Linked DNA regions of Homo sapiens: region 1 is linked to region 2. The links come from fine-mapping of genetic effects on gene expression. A gene starts in region 2. The other region holds a variant in brackets. All regions are shown on one strand. Distances are from middle to middle. Region 1 has its middle 320 kb from the start of XKR9. Region 2 holds the start of TRAM1 (translocation associated membrane protein 1).

Region 1 (2,914 bases), 380 kb after region 2:
CTAATTTTTATTCTATGTGTCAATATAATTCTGTGTTCACACAACAGCCTGCACGTTAGGTTGTCAGCTGTCACTCATGTGTCATCCATTGTTGTTACATCCAAGAGCTACTGTCACCCCTTCTAGTTTAAATTCTCAAATATGAAGTGGTGGCCCTTTGAGTCAGATAGCAAAGTTTAGATTACAGTGTATCAGTAAACTATGAGAGAATTCTCATCTCGAATGCACAATTGAGTTAAATGACCCACAAGGACTTCAGTGATTACTTCTTCAAGACTTGGTAAATAGCATTCTTTCCCCTTTTCTGGACTAGTCCTTGTTCTTCCTCATTGCCTGACTATTCCTATTTGTTCTTTTGATCTTAGCCATGTCATCTGGGGGACCTTCTGGGACTCCTCTGCTAGATCTCCTTTCCATTCATAACCGTCTGAACTTCCTGTATCACCACTTGACGCAGCCTGTTACCATAATTTCTTATTAAATGTCTGTGTTTCCTGGCAGACTCCATGCAGGCTGGCACTGTGCTCATTAAGCTCTCCCCAGCATCAGCACATAGTGTTTTGCCCATGGTGGATGCTTTATCAGGCCGGGCACAGTGGCTAATGCCTGTAATCCCAGCACTTTGGGAGGCTGAGGCGGGTGGATCATCTGAGGTCAGGAGTTCAAGACCAGCCTGGCTAACATGGTGAAACCTCGTCTCTACTAAAAATACAAAAATTAGCTGGGCATGGTGGCAGGTGCCTGTAATCCCAGCTACTCAGGAGGCTGAGGCAGGAGAATCGCTTGAACCCGGGAAGTGGAGGTTGCAGTGAGCCAAGATCGCACCATCGCAATCTGGCCTGGGGGACAAGGGCAAGACTTCATCTCAAAATAAATAAATAAATAAATAAATAAATAAATAAAATAAAAAATAAAATAAATGCTTTATAAATATCTGTTTAATAAATCAATTGAACTTTTGCTATTTAAGTCGAAGCGAATGTAATTTCTAGCTCACTAGGCCACATGGCTATGGCCAGAATAACCATTCAGGGCCTGAATAACAATCATGATGGAAACAAAATAATGATACCTTTAAGAGGAGCTTACGCTACAAACTTTGGTATGCAAGAAACATCACCTTAAATTATATATATGAAATTATCTTTATTTTTTGAGTTGCTAGCAGTAGGACATTAAAACTCAGTCACTATGGGGGTGTCTTTCCTTTTTCTGGGTGTTCACGAGTCTGGAAAGCTTATGTGATTGGTACCTAGAGAAATGAGAAGTGCCTGTAATCTTCAGTCCATCATTGTTGCCACTGCTATTCTAATTGTTCAGACCCACTGCCTCAGAGGTAGGCAATTCTGCTGTCTGCAGGTCAAGGGGGGCCCAGGGGAATTTCCCTGGCCTGGACCCATGATGCCATCACAATGATCACCTCTGAAGTCTTACTGCATCTTGTGGGTTCTGATCATCTCTGTTCTCTTCCCTATCCTGTGTAATCTCTCCCTTTCTCTTACTTCTCTTGAAGCCACTTGCTTTCTCCTTTCTTTCCTTGCTGGATGTCCCAAGTTGTTCTGGGAAATAAAGACTCAGTAAAACATAAGCCAGCAACTATATTTGACTCTAAGCAGTTTCTGCTATCTATGCTGCAACACAAATGCCTCTAGTGAGAAGATGCCCAAAG[G/A]CCTAGCTATTTGTTTTAAATGGGCAAAGGGAAAAAAGGTAAAACAAAATCTCTATAAATTATAGAAAAATTATCCTGTACTTAGTGTTGACCTCATTTGCCCCCTGACAGAATCACTGGTATAGCAAGTAGGGCCATTCTATTCATTAAGTACCTGAGGTACAATGTGGGAATTACCAAGGACTTAAGCCTGTGAAAATGTTGAGAACTAAAAAAATATTAATTGGCTTTAAAATAAGAATTATAAAACTGTAAAACTGAAATTATTAGGAAGTTTAATGGAAAGTCTGTAAAATGTAACATCATGTCATCTTCATTAATTGCTAAATTTAGAATCCATAATAACTTATTACATTTAAAGACAATTTATATGTTAGACTTTTCTCACTTCTCAAGATTTCCCAAGTATTCATAATGATTGCTAAGAAGGTATAACTAATAATAAATTAAATGAGTTATTTATAGTTAGTTATAGATAATTTTCCAAAAACAAAATTATAAAAAGCCCTTTGATTTTTACAAAGCAAAATGATATTTAATATGAAAACATTTTAATATGTTTGATATGTTGTGGGAGGAAATCCCTGAATTTCTAAAATTTGGCATGTGATGTTCCCCTCCTTGTGTCCATGTATTCTCATTGTTTAGCTCCCACTTATGAGTGAGAACATGCAGTGTTTAGTTTTCTGTTCCTGTGTTAATTTGCTGAGGATAATGGTTTCCAGCCTCATTCATGTCCCTGCAAAGGACATGAACTCATTCCTTGTTATGGCTGCATAGTATTCCATGGTGTATATGTGCCACATTTTCTTTATCCAGTCTATCATTGATGGGCATTTGGGTTGGTTCCAATCTTTGCTATTAAGACACATGCACAAGCTGGTGAATCTTAGGTGACATCATCACAATGCACTTTAGATTGCATCTAAGTTTTTATTATCATAAACAAGGCTGAAATGGACAATCTTTGTACATGTATTTGAGCAATGTTTCTGGCATTTCTGAGAATAATTCTATTTTCAAGAAGTGATCATAACTTCTAAGGCATATGCTACCTGAGGAAAATAATTATCTCTTTTTCTTTCTTCCTTTTTCACCCTCCTACCCTCAATTTTTTCTTTCTAAATAGCTTTTCTGAAGAGAATTAAAAATAAAAACAAGAACAAATATGGTAAATTTTTTTTTTTAGGCAATCATTTTATTCCTTTGCTGAAAACTCTACTTTAAAGAGCACGCACAAATATT
Region 2 (2,914 bases):
ATTTACACACTCCTGACATTCCCATCCTCTCCTACTTCAAGAAACAAAATTACTCGATTCCTTGGCACCGCTGTTCAGAACCTCGATTTATCCATCAGACCTTGTTTCTTTAAAGCGTCAGGGCAAAAAGTTCGTTAACTGGTAATAATATCAGTTTAAAAGACAAAAATGAAAACAATCTGGCGCGCCTCCACTGCGCCGGTGCCCGGCGGCCACCGCCCTTCAAGTCGAAAGCAGATGCCTGACTCCGGTTTCTCGCTCACCCCAATCTCGGAGCTACCGGGGGCTCCCCTGTCACTCGGGGCCTGTGGTCTCCAGGCCGGCACTCCTCAGACCCGGGGGCCGGGCCTCGGCCTTCCCCGGCCCTCGCGGGGCTGACGCTCACCGCGGCCGAGGCTGGCAGTCCCCCCAAGTCCGCCCACCCGCCCCGAGCCAGCTCGGCAGCGCAGGGGCCGCCCCCGCCCGCAGGCCCCTCGCCGGCTGCCACGTAACCCTTCGCGGGAACCAGGAACTGCGCCGCGCAGCCTGCGGGAGGGGGCGGCGGCGGGTCAGGAAGGGGGCGACGCGGCGGTCCCCACCCCCTGCGGGCCGCGATGAGGCCCACCGGGACTTTGCATCTCCGGGCCGGCCGCCGGGGAGCTGCCGCCGACGTGGGGCAGGGCAGGGAAGGCCTGCACCTCAGGGACTGGGGGTCTGCACCCACCCCGGGCCCGAGCCCCCCGCGTCCTGGGCGGAGAAGCCGGGGCTGGCATCTGGAGCCCGGGCCCGGGCTGGAGGTGGCGGGGCAGGCGGTTGGGACTCGGGGCGGGCTCACCTCAAACATGAGCCCCAGCAGGAAGACCATCGCCACACAGGAGACGATGTCCGCGTGATTCTGCAGGACGAATTCGTGGCTCAGCACTGGGGGGCTCTTGGTGCTTTTCTTGCGAATCGCCATGGTGGGGCCGCCGCCCGCGCCTGCAGGTGCTCCGCCCCGGTTCTGCTCTTCCCAGCTGCTCACCGACTCGCCGCCGCCTCCCGCTGGCTGCTCCTCACGGCCCCGCTGCAGCCGCTCGCTGGGGCTTCACTTCCCATCCCACAGCCAGTACGCAGCCGCCGGGCCGCCCGGGGGAAAAAAAAAAACACAACAGCTAGCCCGCAGCGGGGGCGAGCATGCGCACCAGGGAGACGACGCTCCCTGGTGCCGCGGCCGCCTCCGCGAGCCCACAGCGCCACCTGGGGACCGGAGGCCGCTGGCCCGCGGCCGGGCGAGCGTGCAGGAATGTGAGCGGCGCTTCCCTGCTTCGCGCCGGGCCCGGGTTTGGGAGTCGTTTGAGGCGCGAGCTTCCTGCGCCTGCTCAGCAGCCTGAGGCCGCGGCCGGGTGCCCTCCTGCCCTCCTGGCCATCCAGGGATTGGGTGTCAGTGGCCTGTTGCACATTGTCACTTCTACAAGTGACTAACACCGTCAGGATAATCTAAAACTACGAATACTACCTGACTCCACAAGGGTACGGTGTATTCTCCAGTTTTAGCATCTGCCTTAAAAATTACCTCAGAGTTAAGCACTGCTGGGGACTTATTTCTACTCTTGGTAAGTTTGGACTAACTTAAAAAAAAAAAAAGAGCTGACCCTATTCTGGTCTGCCTCTCCGTCCCCACCCCCATCCCCGTCCCCATCCCCACCCCTATCCCCCACTGGCCTCAGACTGAAGACGAAGGGATCAGTTTGGGTTTACTGGCTTCACATATATTCAAATTAACAACATGTTTTAGTAATCTAAGGGAAATAGTAAAAGAGTTAAAAAGGATCGTGGATTAAGACACGTCCTCCTCTTATCGTTTTGCCCAAACCTGGAGTCCTTTGTATTCTTTTTCCTGAAGAATTGCTCTCCTGTTTACCCATAAGCCAAATGTAGAAACCAAAGTCATGCTAGATTGAGCCCTTTCAGCGCCCTTCCACATCCAGTCATCACCAATTCGAGGCAGACCTATCACCCCGCTTCCCCACTACCGCAGTCCGAGGGTACTTGCCTCTTGCCTACAATATTACAACTCTGGTGTAACCACTTAGTGGTTTAAGAATGTGGGTTGTTAAATCAGAATTCTGCCACTTATTACTTGTACGATCAAGGACAAGTTACTTAATCTCTATGGGACCCGATTTCCTCATTTTTAAAAATGTATTCATTTATGTACTTACTGAGGGTTGACTGTGTCCTGGGCACTGGGGATACAGAACTGAAATACAAATTAAATTATTCCTAGGGACTTATCATTCTAGTGTGGGAGAGAATCTTTAAACAAGATTTCAAAAGCGAAACAGATGTTAAATTGAGTTGAGCAACCAGGAGAAAAATAAAGCAAGGGGAATAGGAAAGTGCGAGGCACTTATACTTGCCTGAAGACCTGCAGGAGGTGAGGGAGCAAGCCCTGTGGATATCATCTATAAAGTGGGGATAACTATTGCTCATTTTAGTGATTAAATGAGATGATTGAAGGAAACTGCTTAGCGGGGAGTAAGGGCTTTATAAATTTAGTCAGGGATTATTCTTTTCCTCCTTCTGGGCAATCACTAGTTTCATTTCCCTTCAGATCACCTTTCAACGTTTATACTAGAATGATGCTTCTACTGGCAGAAAGTTTTTCAGCGGGTTCCCTTTCCCTTCATGGAAAGCTAGCATGATGAAATAGCCCTTTCTGATTTGGTCCTTGCCTACCCCAACAGACTGGAGCCCTGCATCTACAGGCCATAATCTCTGTACCAGCATTATTGACTACACACACTATACAGTTGCCTCTCCATATCTGTGGGTGCCGCATACACTGTGGATTCAACCAACCTGGAGTAAAAGATATTCAAGAAAAAAACTGCATTTGTACTGAACATCTACAGACTACCCCCCCATGATTATTCCCTAAATAATATAGTACAGC

What was found. PIP is the estimated chance that this variant, and not a neighbour inherited with it, causes the effect.
Region 1: its variant is fine-mapped to the expression of TRAM1 in whole blood (TOPMed, PIP 0.94).

The regions. Positions count from the first base shown.
Region 1 is chr8:70,982,915-70,985,828 of GRCh38, forward strand. It overlaps a transcript of XKR9 not described here. Among named protein-coding and RNA genes, the nearest start is that of XKR9, 320 kb to the left of the region's middle. The variant G/A (reference allele first, on the strand shown) is at 1,670.
Region 2 is chr8:70,607,263-70,610,176 of GRCh38, forward strand. It overlaps TRAM1 (translocation associated membrane protein 1), which reads right to left and starts at 1,154. Exons shown (of 11, transcript NM_014294.6): 1 at 815-1,154. The coding sequence starts at 937. It overlaps LACTB2-AS1 (LACTB2 antisense RNA 1), which reads left to right and starts at 1,315. Exons shown (of 4, transcript NR_038881.1): 1 at 1,315-1,571. RefSeq lists silencers at 201-650, 671-850, 901-960, 1,021-1,070, 1,151-1,320.